4 separate regions of the Homo sapiens genome follow, and all the other regions are linked to region 1. The links come from fine-mapping of genetic effects on gene expression. A gene starts in region 1. Each other region holds a variant in brackets. All regions are shown on one strand. Distances are from middle to middle.

Region 1 (5,728 bases):
AAGCAGTGACTAAGCAGTACCTGTCAAGTGCACATAAAATGCATTCCACTCTTGTCATACAGTGGGACAGGTAGTAGCAGCTTAGATCTTACGAAGAGCAACCACAACTTTTTCCATCCTATCCAAACTGTAACCAGAAGTTCTTGTCCTGGCTCACCTCAGAAAATGCTGATTAAAACTGTGTAAAGTAATAGAATGAAGACCACCTATGCCCTTTCAACACACAACCATTCACGAACATTCACTGTGATTGATAACACAACTCTGATCGCAGACTGAGAAACTCACAAAAATTAGGCCCCAAAGTGAGATATTTCTAAAGCTTAACTTCTGATGTAAAAGCTTACCACTTACATGGCAAAACGGGTCCATAAAATGCTTCAGACTGGCATGCAATCAAAGACTGCAACGGTGTGGCCTAAGTATTTTCTTTCCCTGATCCTTACTGGTGTGGCAGAGCAGCTTCTCAAGCCCACAGATAACTCTCTCCACAATGGCCTCAGGAAAATCAGTGCATGCAGAAAAACTATTTACTGAAGACTTTCATTAGGGGGCTCCCTAAAACAAAATGAATACAAAAGGAGTCTTGATCATTTTGCCTGTCTAAATGAGCACATTAAACTAAGTTGATTCTTAGAAAATCATTTAATATTTTCAGGGATTAAAGAAAGAAAATTGCCAATTAATACAGTCTTTTCCCAGATGTTCAGTTTTTACTAACGTCTTTAGCTATTCTCTGCATTCAAGTGATTGTATTTTTATGCAAATTATCTTTTGGGGCTAGTCTCTAGTTTGTGTGTCTGTGTGTGTGTGTGTGTGTATTTAAAGCCACACAGATACAGAATTTGACATGTTTTCTGCCACACAGATACAGATTTGACATGTTTTCTGTTCTGCTGCTCCATACAATAGGTTTTAACACAGCTTGAGCTTATTCCAAAACTCTAATTAGAAACTGCAGTATTTGCCTTGTCCAAATAGAAACCCATTCCCAAAGTTGATTTTTCCCCAGTTAAAATTCAACAAAGAATATCATACACAGATATTTTTAAACACGACAGTTACTAGATAAAACTGCCCTATCTAACAACACATTGCTTTCTGGTTAAGCAACACAATTTCATAAGGCCTATCAAATACTTTATCCAGACGGCCACTCTATTTTCAGGGTATTGGTTGTATTATTTGAAGTCTTTTTTTTTTTTCAGAGTGAAGAGATTTCTGACTTCCTGTCCTCTTCCCTGCTATATTACATACATCTGCTTAAACTCTGGAAAACAGTACCAGTCAAAGTGGTGCTGAAACCTTCCTTTAAGACAAACTAAAACGATGTTAAAAAGGTTACACGACCTTACTATTTCAAGTACTGGTATAAAACCACTTTCTCTGCACAGGTTCTAAAATTTCACAGTCGTTTGTCTTAAAGTCTGTCGGCTTGTGAGGGGGCTGGTACATATTTTAATATTTAAATTTCAAAAAATAAGCAATGAGACTGTGTTTGAAGTTCAAGGGTTTTCACTAGTTCTCAAGCTACAAACCCTGTAATATAGCCAAAAGAAAACGTACAGAAAGAATCTTTCACGAAAAGTGTCAGGTCTCCAAAACCCCGACATCTGCTAAAACCAGGATTGCGGGGGGGATGAGAAGCTCGTGAAGTTCAAAAACACACCAACCCCGCGGGAACACGAAACCTCCACTCGCGAAGACGCGACGCTTCCGCCGCATCCCCGCGCAGGTGAAGACTCGGCCCTTCAGCCCCGCGTGTGCGGCAGCATGATATTCAGAGTGCGCCGGCGTCCAGCGCGAGCGCATCCTACGACAACCCCGTCTCCCGCTGGGGTCCGCAGCCCGCGGACTCCGGGGTCCCCCCGCCCAAATGCGGCGGCGCGACCGCTTCGTCCCGCGGCCAGGGCGCTCCGCGTCTGCTCCGGCCACCCCAGCCCACCCGCGCAGCGCGGACGCCAACGCATCCCACTCCCGCTGGGCGCCAGGGGCGCGGGGTTCAGTGGGGCCGCGGCCCCCGCACCCGGCTGGGATCCGAGGGCGGGGTGGTCGCGGCTGACGTGGGCTTTGCGGCTCCGGGCCAGAGAGCAGCCTGGGGGACGGTGGGTCTCTTTCCGGCTTGGGAGGGAACGGGGGCGCCCGCGCGGGAGGACGGCAGGCGAGGGACGGCGGCCGCGGGCGATTCAGATCCGGGGCGGGCGGGTACACGTCGGAGCGCGGCGGCCACACGCTCGCCCGGGGAGCGCCACTGTGCGTCCCAGCCGGCGCCTCCTCCCGCTTGCCCGCGCCGGCTGGAGAAAGGAAGGACGGCGACCTTCGCGTCCGGTCCGCGCCACCAGCCCGCCTCGGCGCCGAGCGCGGGCCACACCCAGCGCTCCGGGAGGCGGCGGAGGCTGGGCGGCCCGGGCTGCGGAATGCTCGGCCCAGCCGAGTCTCCGTCCCGGCCGCGCAGGCCCCTCCGCGTCCGCCCGCGCCCTGCATCCCCAGCCGGCCCGGCGTGGAGGGGGTCCTGGGCTTACCTCTGTGTCGAGCGCCGGCTCCTCCGTCCCGGGCCGGAGCCGGGGCCCGGGGGCGCGGTCGCCAGGGGAGGCGCCGCGGCGGTGGCGGCCCCTGCGGCTCGGAGGGCGGGCCGAGCGGGAGCCGCTGCCTGGGCCGCGCGCCGTCCGGAGCTCGCCCCGCGCTGCCGGCGCTTGCAGCGGAGGGCGCAGCCAGCTCGGCCCCCGGACTGGATTCCTTCACTGACACAACTCCGGCTCGGCCGCCCCACGCAGGGACACTCCCGCCCCTCGCAGGCTGCCCCCGCCCGCCGACCCGCCCGCCTTCCCCTCGGTGTCACTCACCAGGAGCACACACCCCAGCCGGCGCCCCTCGCTCCCGCTCGCAAACACAGCGCTGCTCACGCCTCTCTCGGGTTTTGTATCCGCTCACACGCACGTTCTGACACAGATCTCGTCCCTCCACACGCCCTCCCTAGCTCCTTTCCCACCCCACTTTCTAGAAGAATCCCAGTACAGCTTCCGCACTTTGCTTGCTTGCTCCAGACCGACTTCCTCGCCTTTCCCCAAACCTCCACTTCACCGAAACTCCCCTTGTTAATGAAAGATTTTGTCACAATCCGCACGTGTTGCAAGAGAATCATCTTCTCCTACCCGAGAAAATGAACTTTGCTCCCTCAGCACTGTCTGCAAATACGAGATGTTTTTCCTTTTAGAAGGTAGTAATGCTTTCTGGAGAGGATCCAAGCTCAAAATGTAAGCAAAGATAGCCCATTCGAAAATGACCTGAAAAATCAGGCGCGGAAAAAGTGCTGGAGCTCGGGTCAGCCCTTGGAAACCCGACCAACCCGGGGTGTTCCGCCGCCTCCTCTGCGCTGCGGGTCTGCACACTGGGCTCCAAACGTGTGTGTAATAACCAAGTTACACATGGGCATCGTGGGCTTCAGCCGTGGGTTTCTGCCTGGGAGTACAGTAGTCGGGAGAGTAAAAGCAGTTTCTCAATCATTATTCATGATGGAAGCACTTTAGATAACACTCTTCTTCCAGAGGCAGTAGAGTGAAATGCAGGCAGCTCTCCAATTCAGGTTTTTATTTATTTATTTATTTATTTATTTATTTAGAAGGGTGACTTCTTAGCTTCCTTTTTTTTTTTTTTTTTTGGCAATACCAATAACTGTTTCTGAGTGGCTCCTTGGCTGTCAAGCTCCTTACAAATATCAGACCAGAGTTTGTTATGCTTCTCGAGCTCCAGACTCTAATGGGCCTCCGAGGGCACTGCAGAATCGTACATAATCCGATGTTCAGGAATTCATAATTTGAAATAAAATACAAACACCTTTCGGATAAAGTTCAAATCTGCTAACATAATGTGGCCCTGTTGACAACGCACTGCTGAAATAAAGAGAGGAGCTAAAACGAAAGGAATTCATTTTCTTATGTGACTTGGAGTGGTTCTTGCTACCTTATAGTCGCCTTGGATTGGTGTGTGGATAATATAATTTATTTAACAGACATTAGCAAGTGCTTTATAAGTACTAGCTCATTTAATCCTTGGAAGAACCCCATCAGGTAGGTACTACTTTTGTCCTGTTTTACAGATAAACTGAGGGCTGGGCCCAGTGGCTCACACCTGTAATCCCAACACTTTCGGAGACCGAGGTGGGCAAATCTCTTGAGCCCTGGAGATCAAGACCAGCCTGGGCAACATAGTGAAACTCCATCCCTCCAAAACAAAAAAACTAATAATAATAATTGGCCGGGCATGGTGGTGCACGCCTGTAGTCCCAGCTACTCAGGAGGCTGAGGTGGGAGGATTACCTGAACCAGGTAGGCTAAGGTTGCAGTGAGCCAGGATCACACCCCTGCGCTCTAGTGTGGGCAACAGAGCCAGAGCCTTTAAAAGAAAAGAAAGAAAGAAACTGAGGCACAGAGAGGTGAAATAAGTTGCCTAAGTTTTTAGCTAGTAAGTGGTAAAGGAAGAATTTGAACCTAGACCGTTGGACCCTGCCTGTGCTACAGAGAGGAAAGCTTGCTTCTAGAAGCCATACCACACATAAAGAACAAACATCCTATTGCTTATTAAATTTAGGTGTAATAAGTAACTTGTAGCCATTTGACTTGAAATTTGATGCACTTCTTAGGTCCTCTGGCTAAATAATTTATTTATGTTTTTGGGAGGTTTCCTCCATAATTAGAATTCCAAAATGAATAATAAACAACACTTTTCCTAGGAAGGGCTTTGGAAATAACATTGAACTCAGTCTTCATTCTTTTCTTCCACCACTTCATAATCTTCCCATGACTCCAAATCTAACTTGCTTAGTGAAGTCCGACAGAAAAAAATGCCTTCAAGAACAGAATATGACCAGAGGGAAGAAAGGGTTTTAAGAAGACCATATACCGCCTTTCTAATCGAAGGCTGCTTCTTTTAGTAAGTACTGTAGGTAGGAGCTATAAGAATAAATGCTGTATGTGTTGAGAGCAAAGATGTTAAAGCAGTGAATCAATGAAAAAATAGAGACTAGGCAGGTAGGAGTAGCCACTGTACCACAGACTAGGCTAAAACTAATTCTCTACTGTGAGTGGAGGCCTAGCGCGTGAAAAGACAAGTATAGAATAACTTCGAAGAAAACAATTGTATATTTCAAGAGTTAGCTAAGGGGCCCAGCACCCCCCCAAAAAAATCAGAGTTTTAAAAGTTTTAGAGACAGTGAATTTCAAATCAAACTTGAACCTTTTGCTGTTCAAATTAATTTCTTCTGGAAATAATGAAAACTTCTGTTTCTGTTAGAGAGGATTTAATATGCTTATTGAAACATGTAAAAGCTTCTTGCACATCATATAACTAACAAAGCATTATTTTTCTGAATTAGGCATAAATGATTTTTAAAATATGCATTATATTCCTATTATTATAGGGAGATAGAAAAGTCTGAAGAAACAAAATATGAATAAGATATATGTTGATGTTTTCACCAGATGGTCAAAGTTTATTTGAAAAATTACATTGTTTGAAATCTTGATCTGTGTAATGCTAGTTTGACAGTATTGTTCAAAATGATTCTCTGTGATTACAATTCAGAGATTGAATTGCATTTTACTATTTTCTAAACTAAATAGAAATGTGAAGATCTTTTCTTAAGCAAACAAAACAAGAACCATAAGAGCAGATGTTTTCTGAGGGATGAACAAAGTATGTTCGTTTATATTTTTTAACATTTACGTGTAGG
Region 2 (5,728 bases), 150 kb before region 1:
GTGTTCTACATAAACAGAGTTCCCGTAAAATCCACGCGGACCTCACATGTTTCAGATGTGCCCTTTCTCCTTCTAAAAACACATCTTCTCATTTTAGCCAAACTGCCTGGATAGTAAAATTTTATTTTGTTGCCATAAAAAAGCTTTTATTATCAAAGCAATAAGGTGTAAGGAGGAGATTACCATGGCAAAGACTTTACAGTTTATTATATAGTTAATCACAGAGATAAAGTGTCATTTTATAAAAATGTTTCCACTGTCTTGATTCCTTTCTATAGAGCACTGATAATAACAATAATGAAAAGAATCAGAAAGCCTCGTTAGTAGTAATAGATTTATCATTTTCTCCCCTGTGAAAGGCTCTTTAAATTTGGAGATGGAGGCATTGAGTGACAAAATTGATTCATTTGGAAGCTTGGGTGAGTCATGTCAGGCCTAGTGTTCTTCAAATACAAAGATGCCACCATAGAGAGGCAGCCACAGGACCATCAATGTAGTTGATAAGCTGGAGAGCAGAACCTGCTGGTAGATACCGAGGAATGAAAGCAGAATTTCAAAGGGGAGGTGAAGAACTCAATCTGTAACAACAGCCAGAGTTAGATGTTAAAGATTTAAAACCAGGCCACATTCCATCTTCCATGCATTTGCCTCAGGGAGACTAGAGTGAGAGGAATTGCCGGGGACCATCTGATCCCAGACAATTTTGCTGCAGAACCTTCTTGTGGGGAAAGTACTTCAGCTGGAGCTTAACTCATCATTCGCCAAGCCAACAATTGCAGAATGGGAGCATGGGGAGGGAGGCAGGCCCAGCAGGAGGCGCATGCAGTAGAAAGAGAAGGTGGGAACTGCTGGAGAGAAAGGATGCTATGAATGCTAATGAATATTTCAGCCTTCCTGGCCTCTACCAAATAGCATAAAGCATGCCAAAGACTGATAAGCCCTACAGCCAGGCTTCCCTGCATAAAGAATTTCCATTTCTTTCACTAAAAAGAAAAGAGTGGTATAAAAACATCTCCCTCCACTGTGGGCTCTGCCGCTTCTTAATGCAAAGGAATAAGAACTGTGACCAACGGTTCTAACATCCCCTGAGAGGGATGTCAGCTGGGCTGATAGCCTAGTAGTGCCCACTGACCACCACGTGGGCCTTGAGCTGGCAAGCTACAGTTGCCCCGTACTAGCTAGCACTGAGCATCTGTGTCCCTTCCCTTAAATTTTGCCCACTAGTTGCAAGGCAGGAAAACTTCCTTTATACATTTAAGGCCTAATGTACTGTTCCCATGAGTACCATTTCTGGTCCAACTCCCCAAGTATTACCAGCAATTATTGGGCCCAGGGCAAAGCTAGTCAGGGGTTTCAGCTCACCAATTTCTCAATTGCAATTTCTCAATTTCTTTGTTGCAGCTGTCAACAAAGATGCTTCCCTGGCTTGACAGCCACAAATGCAGAAAGACCGTACGGTTCTTTATTCCCAGGGTCAGGAGGCCTGGCAGCCCTAACTGTAAAGGGCACTCACGTTCTTGCACACTGCCAATTCCCGGCTCTTCCTTGCTGTTCTGCTCCCCATCCTGTCCTCTCTCCTGCACCCTCTATGCTGGTTACTGGTGTCATCTCTCACCCAGTGTCCATGGCTCCTCTTCCTTCACTTCCCACATGGTTACATCCTTGGAAGTCTACCCCAGAAATGTCTGTCTGTCCCATGCACCTCTCCACTTCCACTGACTCTTATTTAACCCTGAGCACATTACCCAGTCCTTGGCTATTTGTTGTTGTTTATTGTTACACTGCTGGAATTCCCGGGTCTGTCACCTTCCACTCTGTATATATTTGCATTTAGGTTTTATAACAACCTGAATTCTTTTCAAAACTGAAAAATAATAATAGATTTTTTTTTTTTTAAATGCAGCACTGGTGACAAATTGGTCCTTCTAAAGATTTATTGGGTTTAACAGTGTTATTTGGTAAACATATAAAACCCTGCATACATGTCCACAGCATGTAGACTGGGGTTAGCACATAACCCTTTGAAAGGCTGCCTACTAATCACGCTCATCCGGGAAATAGAGTGGGGGTGCCTCAAGCATGAACCACACTCAACATACAAAGCAAAGTCAAAATCCATCTGACTGTCAATGAACATCAATGACTACACTCAATTGCCAATCAGGCTGACATTTTATTTCTACTACTTTTATGAGAGGCAATACAATGTGTTAATATTGTTTAGTCTGCATATTTTATGTTGGAATCATACAATGATTTGAAATCATGGTTAATAAATTGTTCATCATACTGTCTGAGGTGCATTTCTGGGATGAGACACACAGATTTAGTATAAGGACTAACTCTCAACATTAGTAATATTTTGGAGTTCTTCAAAAAGGACATAATTAATTAAAAAATATACAGGGATTTCTTTTTCTTATTGGAATTTTTTAAATGACAGAATAGCATAATCCCATAGTATGGAAATCCCACAACATTAAATGTTCAACTGAAAAATCTATATTCCTCTGTTTAGAAATTGTACATATGACTTTGATGAACAATAGAAATTTTTATCTTTGCTAATTACTTATTAGTTCAGTTTCTTTTCATGGAGGTCACTATTCAGGGAAAGTAACTTGACTGTATTTCAGTGTCTTTGACTATAAAAATGCTGACTCCCCCGCTTCCCCTTTTAAAGTTACATCTGCCGGGCGTGGTGGCTCATGCCTATAATCCCAGCACTTTGGGAGGGCGAGGCAGGCAGATCACCTCAGGTCAGGAGTTCAAGACCAGCCTGGCCAACATGGTGAAACCCCATCTCTACTAAAAAACTGGAAAATATTAGAAAGCAGGATAAAATGAAACAAATTTCAAAATAAAACAAAATAAAGCAAAATGCCCCTTTGTCTCAAGCACAAAATAGAGCCAATCACTCTGATCACTGTTGTATTTCCTTCCAAAAAAAGAAAA[G/AG]AAAAAAGAAAACGGTGGGGGCAAGGGGAAGGGCATTTATGTAGATGCCATCATGGTTGCTGAACATAAATAACAGGAACAGAAACTGGAAGAAACTGATATAGTACAAGAAGTGCCAGAAATGCTGGCCCACATTCAACCCAAGGCAGCCAGGCCTAGCCTCCTCTGCTCCTGGCCTCCAGGCAGGCTCTCATGTGAAAAGGGGAGGGGAGGGGCTCTTCTTGTTTTTGGCCTAGAAGGCTCTTCCCCACAATCACAGGTGTTGTTATTGCCCATGGTAAGGCCGTACCCTAGTCCAGGCTTCCAAAATGGAGCAGGAATACAATATTAAATTTTATGTACTCACTTGTTATTCTAAGTAGGCTTTCCTCATCTTTAGTATACAGATTAACAGTAGTACACATGTATAATTTATAAATGAACTTTCTGATTTGAGAGGGATGTGCTTAAAATTCATTTATTGATGGAGTGAGACCATCATCATTAGTTATATTAACTTTCTTTTTGAGACAGGGTCTGGCTCTGTTGCCCAGGTTGGGGTGCAGCGGTGTGGGTGTGATGTTGGCTCCCTGCAAACTCCGCCTCCTGGGCTCAGGCGATCCTTCCACCTCAGCCTCCAGAGTAGCTGGGACTGGAGATCTACACCACCATACCCAGCTAATTTTTATATTTTTTTGGTAGAGACAGGGTTTTTCCATGTTGTCCAGGTTGGTCTTGAACTCCTGGCCTCAAGCAATCCTCCTACCTTGGCCTCCCAAAGTGCTGGAATAACAGGTGTGAGCCACCGTGCCCATCATTATTGATGGAAGAAGGGTACTTCTCCCTGAGCACATATGTTCTTTCTTGCCTCTGGTTCTTTGTGTTGCTTCTTCTGCATGGAATCTTCTTTCTTCCTTCTCCATCTGGCAAATTTCTAGTCTTCCTTCAAGATCCTGCTCAAAGGTCACCTCTGCAATGGAACCTTTCCTAATGAGCCAGGTAGAGTTGATTTTTCCTCCCCCCAGCTCCATTCCAGCTTGTTTACATCTGCAGCCACTAGTGCATGGGCTTTTTTAGGAGGAAGACTGTCTTTATCCCTCAGTCTTTCTAGAAGTGCTCCTTCAAGTGTGGTCTGCAGACCACCTACATTTGTACTCACTAGACTCACTGAGTGGAAGATTCTTGGGTGCCACCTAACATCCACAGAATCAGAATATCTGGAAATGGGGCCCTGATGCTCCTCGTGCACTCAAATGTTTGAAAAGTAGTGGCTTGACACACATTCATCTATCTATTAAGTGGATGAATGAAGAAAGGGGAAGAGAGAGGTAGCGAAGGCATGGCAAGACAAGAAAGGGGAAGGGGAGCTGTTTTGGTGGCAACTGTGACATTCAGAAGTGGGTGTCCCTTTGCCTTACTTCTCTCTTCATCAAGTAATAAAAAGTAGAAGTGGTGATGAACCATTCCTATCCCATAGCTGGACTCCACTGCATGCTAAATAAACAGAAAGTTGGAAGGGATAACTTATTGCCAGTGTCTTGGTGTAGAGGAAAAGAAATTTCCCAAATGCTACTCTGGAAGAGAATCAACCTTAACTGAACATCTCTTATGGGCCAGGCTAGTGATTTTCTAGAATGATGTGACAGATACATTACTTATATATGAATTTTCACAAAACCCCTAGAAAGTGATAACAGTATTCCTGCTTTGTAGCTGAGAAGGAGTTAAAAAACTCAACCAGGTTCAGAGCTAGAATATGTAGAGATGAGATTTAAACCTTAATCTATCTAACTCCACATCCCGTGCCTCCTAATTAAGTGGTTAATAAACCTTGGAAAATGCGTCTTTCATTAGAATATGGCCTGGTAAGAATCAAGAGTTTAGAGTCACTAGAAGCAGCATGTAGTATACATATAAGGAGTTCTATTTTATTGGCTTCACGTACAGCCTTTCTATATGATTTGTTGCTGACTTAGCTGACAAACTGCCCAAAATAACTCCTTAGTCTCACTGTACCAGTCCAAAAAAACAGAAATAAGCTCCAAGATGCATTCTGAAATTGTAATTTAGGACTCACTTTTTAGTATTATAATGTATTTTATATTTATACTAAGATATAAGAACAAATTCATCTTCTTTTTTCTAGTGAAAATAGACTATATTGCATATATATTTTTTAAAAGACCATACTCTAGTATCCTATGGGAATGTGTAGATAGAACAATTTGCTTATTTCCTCTTTATTTTTCTATTTTATGATGAAAACAATTCCTTTTCAGAAGTACATTCCCGGGCTGGTTGATTGGTAAGCTTTCATCTGCTGAGAAGATTCAGAAATCTTTTCCGATTTCAGGCTGAAATTAGAACCAATTTCTTGTCTTCCAGCTCTTATTGTGGGCCTTTATTCTGCAAAGAAGGCTGCAGTGCCAGCGGAGCTGACTGCCAGTGCCAAGTGTGTGACTGACATAACGTATGGAGGTAATCCACACGTGTAGCTCAGGAAGGCTATTAATAAGAGGTGCTATTTATGCTGGTTTCCTGGGGACTATACCTAAACTGAAAAGGCCAGTTCAGTACTTTTTGTATTTATCAACCTGCTCTTCCTTCATGTCAACTGATTCATTCAGTCCTTGCAAAGGCCCTGGGGAAACATCTATTGCAGAGGAAAACCTCAGGGAAGAAAGAAAATAGGAAAAGAGAAGCTTTCACCTCCAAAGAGTGAGCTACACCTATTTAGAAAGACACATATTCACAAATGAGGCAAGATTTGAAATATACTGCACTACAGGGACTT
Region 3 (5,728 bases), 26 kb before region 1:
CTGGGGTGCATATCCCACTTTGGAGACCACTTTGCCATGCAGTGACACAGTCGTTCACTTCTAAAAGCCAGTTATAATCACAGAAATCTCTAGAACTAAAATCAGGTGTGAACACAAGGTGTGAACTAAGCCAGGCCAAAGAGATAGTTACTTTATCTTTTTAACTTTTTAAATTATTACTATAACTCATTAACAGGAAAGTAAATTTAAAAATTCATTTATTTTGCCCACGTCACTACCAGCCCCGTCAAAGCACACAATATTGCCAGCACCCTTGGAAGCCCTCCAGGTCCTTTCTCTTTCCTGTCTTAGAGGCAAGCACTATCTTCTTTTTTTTTTCTTTCTTTTTTTTTTGAGACAGAATCTTTGCTCTGTCGCCCAGGCCAGAGTGTAGTGGCGCAATCTCGGCTCACTGCAAGCTCTGCCTCCCGGGTTCACACCATTCTCCCGCCTCAGGTAAGCACTGTCTTGGTATCCGATTCTTTCAGTAATAAGTTCCTTGCTTTTCTTTATTGTTTCAGCCACTTGAATATACACACCTTAGCAACAAAGTTTAGTTTTGTCTGTTTTTTAATAAGACTGCTATGCTCATGGGTAGGAAGAATCAATATCGTGAAAATGGCCATACTGCCCAAGGTAATTTATAGATTCAATGCCATCCCCATCAAGCTACCAATGACTTTCTTCACAGAATTGGAAAAAACTACTTTAAAGTTCACATGAAAACAAAAAAGAGCCTGCATCGCCAAGTCAATCCTAAGCCAAAAGAACAAAGCTGGAGGCATCACGCTATCTAACTTCAAACTATACTACAAGGCTACAGTAACCAAAACAGCATGGTACTGGTACCAAAACAGATATATAGATCAATGGAACAGAACAGAGCCCTCAGAAATAATGCCACATATCTACAACTATCTGATCGTTGACAAACCTGACAAAAACAAGAAATGGGGAAAGGATTCCCTATTTAATAAATGGTGCTGGGAAAACTGGCTAGCCATATGTAGAAAGCTGAAACTGGATCCCTTCCTTACACCTTATACAAAAATCAATTCAAGATGGATTAAAGACTTAAATGTTAGACCTAAAACCATAAAAACCCTAGAAGAAAACCTAGGCAATACCATTCAGGACATAGGCATGGGCAAGGACTTCATGTCTAAAACACCAAAAGCAATGGCAACAAAAGCCAAAATTGACAAATGGGATCTAATTAAACTAAAGAGCTTCTTCTGCACAGCAAAAGAAACTACCATCAGAGTGAACAGGCAACCTACAGAATGGGAGAAAATTTTCGCAACCTACTCATCTGACAAAGGGCTAATATCCAGAATCTACAAAGAACTCAAACAAATTTACAAGAAAAAAACAAACAACCCCATCAAAAAGTGGGTGAAGGATATGAACAGACACTTCTCAAAAGAAGACATTTATGTAGCCAAAATGCTCATCATCATGAAAAAATGCTCATCATCACTGGCCATCAGAGAAATGCAAATCAAAACCATAATGAGATACCATCTCACACCAGTTAGAATGGCGATCATTAAAAAGTCAGGAAACAACAGGTGCTGGAGAGGATGTGGAGAAATAGGAACACTTTTACACTGTTGGTGGGACTATAAACTAGTTCAACCATTGTGGAAGACAGTGTGGCGATTCCTCAGGGATCTAGAACCAGAAATACCACTTGACCCAGCCATCCCATCACTGGGTGTATACCCAAAGGATTATAAATCATGCTGCTATAAAGACACATGCACATGTATGTTTATTGCGGCACTATTCACAATAGCAAAGACTTGGAACCAACCCAAATGTCCAACAATGATAGACTGGATTAAGAAAATGTGGCACATATACACCATGGAATACTATGCAGCCATAAAAAATGATGAGTTCATGTCCTTTGTAGGGACATGGATGAAGCTGGAATCCATCATTCTCAGCAAACTATCGCAAGAACAAAAAACCAAACACTACATGTTCTCACTCATAGGTGGGAATTGAACAATGAGAACACTTGGACACAGGAAGGGGAACATCACACACTGGGGCCCATCATGGGGTGGGGGGAGCGGGGAGGGATAGCATTAGGAGATATACCTAATGTTAAATGACGAGTTAATGGGTGCAGCACACCAACATGGCACATGTATACATATGTAACAAACCTGCACGTTGTGCACATGTACCCTAAAACTTAAAGTAAAATAAAAAATAAAATAAAATAAAAAATAAAAAAAATTTTAAAAAACCCTTGTACCCCAAACTCCCAACTTGATCACTACATATTCTACACATGTAACAAACACTCATATGTAACCCATAAATATATAAAATATCATGTCTCAATAAAATAAAGACAATAATAAAAACCTAAAAAAAAAAAAAGACTGCTATGTAATCTTGTGTCTTTTCTTTCTCTCTCTCTCTTTTTTTTTGAGACAGGGTCTTGTCCTGTCACCCAGGCTGGAGTGCAGTAGTGTGATCTTGGCTCACTGCAGTCTTTCCTTCCTGGGCTCAACTGATCCTCCCACCTCAGCCTCCCAAACAGCTGGGACTACAGGCACACACCACCACACCCAGCTAAGGTGTTTTTTTTTTGTATTTGTAGAAAAGAGATTCACCATGTTGCCCAGGCTGGTCTTGAACTCCTGGGCTCAAACAACCCCCCAGCCTTGGCCTCCCAAAGGGCTGGTATTACAGGCATGAGCTAACAAACCCAGGCCATATCTGTCTTTCAACATCATGTCTGTGGGATATATCCATGTTATTGTGTACAGCTCTAGTTCATTTTTTTACTGCTGTATAGTATTCTAGCATATGATTACACCACAATTTATTAATCTATTCTCCTACTGATAGAGAATATTTTACACATCTCTGGATGCATATAATATATATTTCTCTAGAATACATAGATACATACATACACACACACACACACACACACA[G/CACACAG]GCAGCTAACTTAGTTTTTTTTTTTCAAAAAAAAAATATAATGAATTCCAGTAATTCATTCTTTGGGCAATGAATTAAGAAATCATAATTAACTAACTCTTATGAAGCTATGAAGAAAGTTCATTAAATTACTAGATTTATTCTCTCAGTAGACTTTCACTCCTACACATTCACTAAATCTAAGCCATGATAATAAATGCATTTTACTGTATTAAAAAATAGTTTGGGCCAGGCATGGTGGCTCACACCTGTAATCCCACCACTGTGGGAGACCAAGGTGGGAGGATCGCTTAAGCCCAGCAGTTTGAGACCAGCCTGGGTAACAAAGTGAGACCCCCTATCTCTATAAAAAATAAAAAAAATAGCCAGTTGTGGTGGCATGCACCTGTGGTCCCAGCTACACCAGAGGCTTAGGCAAGAGAACTGTGTTAGCCCAGGAGGTTGAACTTTTAGTGAGCTGTGTTGGCGCCACTGCACTCCAACCCAGGTGACAGAGTGAGACCCTGTCTCTCTAAAAAAAAAAAGCTTGAAGATTTCCAGTAAACTTACTAAAGCTGATTCTTCCAAATCTCTCTCTTTCCTCTCTGTCTCTCCCTCTCCCTCTCCCTCTCTCTCTCTCACACACACACATTTTACATATTGTAATAAAATTTTTCCTCTTAATGAGGGCTAATATTGTGCATACCAAGAGAACAAAATGTTCATTCAAATTTTAAAGCAATTTTGCACCAAAAGGGTTCCAAGTTCAATACTGATCAAGCCTGGAAAGCCAAAAAATGTTATTTCTGTAGCCAAACTAAGGAGTACAAGCACAAATAACAGAGATTGATTCCAAATTCAGAGTCTCCAGTGTTTTCATTACCATCATAAATGTTCTCCAAGTGGACCGTAGAAATGGGACATACTTAGATGACAATACTGTGGTACGAGCAAAATCTGCCTCTGGTCGACCACTGTCTTACCAATAACAACAAAATAACTAACATTTTTTATTGTGCCAGGACTTTCCACATATCAACCTACCTATACTTTCCATATATGGGCTTGTTTAATCATCATCAAAACAACCCAATGAGGTGAATACTCTCATTTGTCCCATTTTACAAGAAGAAATTGAGGCACAGAGAGGGGGACTAACTTGACCAAGGTCCCACTGCTGTTAAGTAGCTGAGGTGCGACTCAAAATCATTCCTCCTGGAGCCTCGGTCTATATTCCCTACACTACCTTGCAGAATGTTAGTTTTGTTGTTATTGTTGGCACTGTTATTGTTATTTTGATAACAACAAGAATAGTTCCTTGAGATCAGAGCAAAATGTGTGAATCCTAGGGGGAAAAACATCTATGTACATTTATTTTGATCCATGAGAAATTTGTGAAAATGACTGTAACCAAGCAACTCTCTAATTCTGGGAGAACAAATTAAGAAATGAATTAAGGGATTCAGTGGATACCCAAATTAGTCATTAGAACTTGAAGATCTGGAATTCTGGTCTAAATCCAGCTTTGGCACTTGCATCGAAAATAAACATAATCAGATAAGCATCACAGCTCACAATTAAAATGGATTTATATGGCTTATGTGTCCACATGGGACAGGCCTCTTCATAATTGAATTCGGACACCTCTTCAGTTATTGTGGGCTTCATTTACCATCTTCCTAGTCTTTCATAACTGCTGGCAATAGGATTATGCTGAGGGGGAAATCATTTTCAATCACTGATGTCTGCAGTACAAGCATAAAAAGATAAAAGTAAAGCCTTTGAGCTGTAATTAGAAAATTCCTAAAGTGTGCTCATGTGGCATATGGTTTAGACTACTACCAACTGGCAAGACCAGTTACAGAAGGGATGTCTAATGTCACCGTTCTGGGATAAGCAGCCAGTACAAGTAGCGTTCCAACACATGATTAGAGTAATCTTTTGCAGGGTAAAACATTCCTGCTTTCCACCTCTAATATGATTAGTGACAGGCAGCTGGAGGCATCTCATTCTCCTGACAAAAATATGATCAGAATTGTTTTCAATTGGTACATCTTTCCATCAAGCTGTTGCCTTCCAGCAGAATAATCAGAGTTTCTGATTATTTGGTATACGTTTCAAGAAAACAGGAATTGATTGTGCCCTTGCTTGTCTGATGGGTAGAAGGCTGCCAGGATCTACATAGTAACTCTTCAGCTGCCTAACCAAAGGAAAACTAAGCAGTGTGTGCGCCTGTGCATGCAGACATGTGTATGGAGACAGAAAGACAGAAAATCAACAGTTGTTTCTATATTAATTCTCTTTGAACAACTGAAAGTGCTTTCATTGTGATTCAAATATGAGGAAGTAAAATATTCGATTCTATTCATGGAAAACAACCAACTCCCACCAATATTTATGGCTCTTTTCAAAAAGTTACAATCATCTTACCACAAAAGTTTTACATTTATGGAAAAAGAATCAAGTTTATATTAAACATTAATGGAAATATCCAGGAGGCAATAAGACTTCATTAATTTGGACTACCTCAATTTGGAATTTATGATTATTTAACAGGGTCTGGACCAAGGATGATCTTTGGTTACTGTTTTATTGAATATCAATTTTGTGTAAGTTTGCCTTGCATACATGAGCTTGAAAACATCTTGACAATTCTGCAAGATGGGTATAATTACCCCATCTTAAAGAAGAGGAAACCAAGGCTCAGAAAAGTAAGTGACATGCGAAGACTGCACGATTATTAGGCAGCAGAGGCAGGATGCAGAGCCAGGCTGTCTGGCTCAGGAGTC
Region 4 (5,728 bases), 170 kb before region 1:
CTCAAAAAAAGAAAAAGAAAAAAGAAAAAAAAAAAAGAGATGGGAGCTGAAATCCTGATCAAATTGGACCAACTGGACTTTTCACTCACTGAACCAATAAATTCTTATTGTTGAAGCTAGGCTCAGCTGAGGTTTGTAGTACTTGCAACCAATGTTTCCAACTGCCCAACTGCCACATGGTGTGTCTAAGATGATCAGGGTGCATATCCATCTATTTGTGTAATCTAATTGAAAGGGCATATATATATTTTCCTGAAAGAGTACTTGTCTCAACAGAAACAGTATTTATTGTACACAGCTTTGCACCACAACCTCTAGTCTCTAAAGTTTTTTTTGAAAGCACTAAACAGTACATTCAATAACTAGGTGGGTATCAATAAAAGAAACTAGCCAGGTGTCAAATGCAGCATATTTTAATTTGTTTCAAATAAAGCAATATATGTATATATATTTTTTCAGAAAAACACCAGATGTTAAATTCTACAAAAGCGCATGTGTCCTCAGCAGATCATGTTTGTCTGATTATTAAGAATTCTTTTTTGTAACATTAACTCTCTAAAGACAATCAATGGACTGACATCACTGCTACAACACAGGTTGCTAACTGAGCCTCTGATCTTCAGCCACATCTTGATTTTCCTAATAATGAGTAAATACTGCCTGGCTAAAATGCTGCAAAGTCTTGATGAGAGAAAGCATCAACAGATCAAGCAAAGCCATGAAAATTATGAAGCAAGCTAGAGCTGATTATTAGAATTAGTAAAAATGATTAAGAGAGGATGACACAACCATACGGGATTTGTATATTCTGATTGACACTCTTTTGGCAGCGAATTGGGTCAGCACCTCGGGCAGGGAACCAAAACTGAGTGAAAACTGCTCTTTTTCCTCCTAGCTCAGGCCACCAACGTCACAGCCGGGACTGAGAGAACTGCTGCATCTGTGGAAACTTCTATTCTCGTGGGGCAGAGATTGCACTGTGAAACCCTACCGACACTACCCCGGAAGGGCCTGGCCTCCGAGGTGTCTGCAGCGTGCTGCCTTCGCCGGGGCTTTTCAGAATGGGCCGGGGCCTCGGGGGTCTTCATCCCCAAGGAAGCCTCTTGATTTTTGGCACCGCCTTTGTTTTTGGGCCGGAAGCCGTTGTGCGGCTGTCTTCTGTGTTCGTGGCGGCTGTTGCCCTTTCCCAGTGGCTCGGCTTCATTCCCACTGCCCTGCGACTTGGCAGGCCCATTTAGCCTGTTGTTATGATACTGTGGATTAAATCTCCGTCTTTGGTTAGAAGATCCATTCTACCAAAAAAGAAAAGAGATAAGTATCAGATGCCAGCAAGCCACTGATGACACCAGTAGACATCAGGAAAACCAAATCTCTAAGCCACAGGTAAGCTTTTTTTTTTTTTTTTTTTTTTTATACACCAGAAGAATCAGAAAACATGAAGATGAGGTCAGGCAGATAAAATTATTAATCCTAAAAGAATAGTGGACTGTTTTGTAAATGGAACTGGAAGAAAATGATATTGAAAGAGAGGTTACAGAAGTGTAAGACAGACAATTCAAAAACTGGGTCAAATAAAATTCATAAAGATGCTTAAACTATAGCAGAATAAAACAGAAGCCAGGGGCAGAGTAATGATGATCCTCTACTATGGAGATTTCTGAGACATTCTGTAGAGACTGAGAGGGACAGGAGGCACAGAAATTGTACACAGAAAAAGGGCAGGGTCCCTGGCCAAGACCCACTCTCAAGCCCAAAGTGAGAACTTTACATTCCTGTTTTCCTGCTCAAATATTGCCTTTTCCAAAACCACCCCTGGCCTACCCCACCCCGTATCCTGTACCCATAAAAATCCCAGGCTCCACTGGCACAGAGCAGAGAAGAGGAGAAGCAGCTGCACGTCGGAGACTGCAGTCTGAGTCGGAGAGCAGCAGCTTGACTTTAGCGGGACTGCTTGATGGCAGTACTTCAGGGGAAGAATACGTTCCCACTCCATCCCCATTTTCCAGCTCTCTCCCTCCTGCTGAGAGCCACTTTCAATGGCAATAAAATCCCCCGCGTTTACTATCCTTCAATTTGTTCATATGACCTGATTTTTCATGGATGCTGGACAAGAGCTCAGGATACAGAAAAGTGTCACATTGACCCTCTGCCTTCATGAAAAAGTAGAAGGTCTATTGAGCTGTTAAATACTTAAGCCGTCCTTGGACTGCAAAGCTAAAAGAGCATTGTAACGCATGCCCTCTGGGGCTCCAGGGGTCATGGGTACTACCCTAGGCACTGCTGTGGGACTGCATGGAGTTTTGATCCTGCCGGTGGCCAAAAGTGCTTGCTCTAGCTCCTGCACCTGCTCACCTGCATGCTCTCCCTCCCCCGAGGGGTTCAGAGCTTCAGGCTGAGAAAGTGAGGCACCCCTGTTGCAAGGCCTGTGAAGGGGTCAAGGAAAATTTCCTGTTCAAAACCATGCATAGGAATTCTAATTACGTAAGTGAAGAAAAAGTAAAATTCTGTAACTTTTCTTCTCTAAAGTAGCTTTTCTAATTTATTCCAAAACAAATATCTTTATAGTTCAGAAATATTATCTTGGACAAATATAGGGGTGAAGTGTATCTGGCAGGTCTTGGTGGCATGCAGAAATAAGGTGTATTTTCACAGAGGTAATTCATTGTTTTTCTAAACTTTCTGCAGTTATAAGCAAAGAAAATTTGAAGCCTCTATTAAAAAATCATTCCTTCAACACATCACTGACCAGGAACGTAAATGGATGAGCAGTAAGGACGCAATGGATTAAGCTCCTTTACAAGGGAAAGATTTCTGAACTCCTCAAGGTCAGTAATAGCCAACACTCATTGAGTGCTTACCATGCACTGAATGGGGTTTCTCACCATGCACTACCTCATTTAACATCAGAATCACCCTTTAAGTTAGTTGCTATTATGTGCTTCGTTTTATAGATGAGGATAAGGAGTTTCAGGGACTTGCCCAAGGTCTATCTACAGTTGGGAAATGGTGGAGCTATTCCCGCTTTATATACTATCTCCTGACAAGACTCTTAAGTTGTAACATAAACATAAACCTTTTTTGAAAATCAAACCTCTTAAGAAAACATGAAATTTTATGAGTTACAAATATATAAGGTTCTTCATTTGTGCACTGTGACTGGATGGTATAGGTTTAGGG[C/A]AGACCAACCCCCAATAATTCAGAGCCTAGAGCAAGAGTACAAATGTAGGTCCATACATCTGTTAAAGGAAAATAAATCTTGGGGCCCCCAAATCACTAAGCTGAAGGGAAAAGTCAAGCTGGGAACTGCTTAGGGCAAACCTGGCTCCCATTCTATTCAAAGTCACCCCTCTGCTCACTGAGATAAATGCATATCTGACTGTCTCATTTGGAGAGGCTAATCAGAAACTCAAAAGAATACAACCATCTGTCTTTTATCTGCCTAAGACCTGGAAGCCCCCTCCTCGCTCCCAGTTGTCCGCCTTTGCCTCCAGTAGTCCCACCTTTCTGGACTGAACTGATATTCACCTTACACAAATGGATTGATGTCTCATGTCTCCCTAAAATGTACAAAACCAAGCTGTGCCCCACCACCTTGGGCACATGTCATCAGACCTTCTGAGGCTGTGTCACGGGTGCACGTCCTCAACCTTGGCAAAATAAACTTTCTAAGTTATCTGAGACCTGTCTCAGATTTTTGGGGTTCACACACCATATGTCTGAATACTGTCTTTTCCTATCTCTGGCTCCATCCCACATTGTAAGGGGCCTTGCACACACAAATGTGGACATTCCAGCCTGCACACCTAAGCATCGCCTCCACTCCCACCCTTCCAGCGGATGGGTGTGAAAACTGGCAGTGTTGTTCATCTTCAAGATGATGTATACAGGAAAGTGGTCCAGGCAGATCCTGTGAGCAGGCTTGGGCCCACTTGGGAAGAGTAACCCAGGATCTCGAGTACTGACTGGCAGCATGCTTCAGAACAAAGAGTGTAGATTCCAGTGGCCCTGTCTCCTTGGTCTCTCTGATTCCTTACTCTGTAGAGAGGGCCATGGCTGCGGGAGGGTCAAGAAGTTACTTGAAAACACAGGGCCCGGTCCAAGGGCCATTCTTGCCTGGGTCTACAGTGTTCTGACTTAGATATTTGAGTGGATTTCAACTTAAATGAGCCATTACCTAAACTGCTAAACCAGAGAACTGAAGAAGTATCTACATAGATAGTACTTAATCTGGCCTCCTTTGTTTTTAAAGAAATTATGAAAAAGGGAAACTCTTAGACTAAATTTTAGACTTAATTATCAGCATGGTATTTAATAATGAACAGAGAGGCCAGGCATGGTGGCTCATGCCTGTAATCTCAGCACTTTGGGAGGCTGAAGCAGGTGGATCGCTTGAGCCCAGGAATTTGACAGCAACATGACAAAACCCCATCTCTACAAAAATTATACAAAAAAATTTAGTCAGGCGTGGTGGCACGTGCCTGTAGTCCCAGCTACCCTGCAGGCTGAGCCTGGTGGATTGTTTGAGCCCAGGAGGTTGAGGCTGCAGTGGGCCGAGATTGTGCCAAAAAAAAGAAAAAAAAAAGAACAAAAACTGTGAAGATATATTTAGACTACAAGTAAAAACAGATTTGATTATGATCTTTAACTAATGAGATTATAACATGCTCCTTGTCAAAGTGCTATCTTAAAGCTCATGAAGACTTCAGGGCCTGAGAAAACACCTGTCAATATCATTAATAAGAATTCTCAAAGGCTGAGACAGCAAAACCCAACAAGACACCTGTTAGAAAACCACCATTTTTAAAGTCTTACAAAAAAAAAAAAGAAAAGACTTTTTCTTGGAGATGATAAAAGGTATCTTAGGTATCTTTATAGCATGCCCAACTTCTATATCATCAGATCCTTTATTTTTATTTTTATTTTTTTTTGAGATGGAGTCTCACTCTGTTGCCCAGGCTGAAGGGCAGTGGTGCGATCTTGGCTCACTGAAACCTCCGCCTCCCGGGTTCAAGCAATTCTCCTGCCTCAGCCTCCCGAGTAACTGGGATTACAGGCACCCGCCACCATGCCTGGCTAAATTTTGTGTTTTTAGTAGAGACAGGGTTTCACCATGTTGGTCAGGCTGGTCTCAAACTCCTGACCTCAAGTGATCTGCCCACCTTGGCCTCCCAAAGTGCTGGGATTATAGGAGTGAGCCATTGCATCCGGCAGATCCCAATTTTTTGTTAATTCTCTAAGGATAAGGGGGAAATCACCTCCAAAAGATATAGTGGAGAAGCAGAAGGAGAGAAGGAAGATGGTTCTTTGGACACTTGTGTCTTTAGACATCATAATAGATAAGAATGAAGAATGCCATTTTGAAATGTATTCTCCTTACTGAAATCCCAAGAGAAGAGAAGACTGCACTAACTTTAGCCTCTTATTGATCAGCTAAACATAAATGGGGATTAAAATATCTTAAAAAACAAATGCCAGATTTCCTCTCATTAGTAGTTTAGTAGGTTCCGAGTCTTGTTCCAGAGTCTCTGTGGGTCCCTTCCACGTGTGGGCTGGTTTCGGGGCCCCAGGGATGGTGGCAGTCCTAGCCATGAGAAGAACTGTGTCACTGGGGTGGACTCTGCTCACGTGGTCAAGAGTGCATGCAGGCCACTTCCTCCACATGGGAAAGCACCTGGCAGGCATGGATGAGAGCGACCAGGGGAGTTCCCAAGAGGCCAGCTGGGCAGTG

Alleles and levels. Alleles are on the strand shown, and positions count from the first base shown. SD is a standard deviation of normalised expression in the study named. Not every link is listed here.
With allele G in place of AG in region 2, the expression in lymphoblastoid cells of the gene that starts at base 2,752 in region 1 is higher (moderate effect, 0.51 SD a copy in TwinsUK).

Evidence for each region. PIP is the estimated chance that this variant, and not a neighbour inherited with it, causes the effect.
Region 2: its variant is fine-mapped to the expression of SPATS2L in lymphoblastoid cells (TwinsUK, PIP 0.95).
Region 3: its variant is fine-mapped to the expression of SPATS2L in whole blood (INTERVAL, PIP above 0.99).
Region 4: its variant is fine-mapped to the expression of SPATS2L in whole blood (TOPMed, PIP above 0.99).

Annotation. Positions count from the first base shown.
Region 1 is chr2:200,303,717-200,309,444 of GRCh38, reverse strand. It overlaps SPATS2L (spermatogenesis associated serine rich 2 like), which reads right to left and starts at 2,752. Exons shown (of 13, transcript NM_001100423.2): 1 at 2,523-2,752. RefSeq lists silencers at 1,788-2,117, 2,138-2,867 and an enhancer at 3,278-3,377.
Region 2 is chr2:200,449,060-200,454,787 of GRCh38, reverse strand. The region is part of intron 8 of SPATS2L (spermatogenesis associated serine rich 2 like); the gene reads right to left. LOC101927741 (a long non-coding RNA gene) reads left to right here. Exons shown (of 7, transcript XR_007088047.1): 3 at 5,320-5,412. Among named protein-coding and RNA genes, the nearest start is that of KCTD18, 58 kb to the left of the region's middle. The variant G/AG (reference allele first, on the strand shown) is at 2,956.
Region 3 is chr2:200,330,005-200,335,732 of GRCh38, reverse strand. The region is part of intron 2 of SPATS2L (spermatogenesis associated serine rich 2 like); the gene reads right to left. Among named protein-coding and RNA genes, the nearest start is that of SPATS2L, 26 kb to the right of the region's middle. The variant G/CACACAG (reference allele first, on the strand shown) is at 2,961.
Region 4 is chr2:200,473,200-200,478,927 of GRCh38, reverse strand. SPATS2L (spermatogenesis associated serine rich 2 like) reads right to left here. Exons shown (of 13, transcript NM_001100423.2): 13 at 1-1,292. The coding sequence ends at 897. It overlaps LOC101927741 (a long non-coding RNA gene), which reads left to right and starts at 955. Exons shown (of 7, transcript XR_007088047.1): 1 at 955-1,383; 2 at 2,686-2,825. RefSeq lists an enhancer at 5,681-5,728. The variant C/A (reference allele first, on the strand shown) is at 3,178.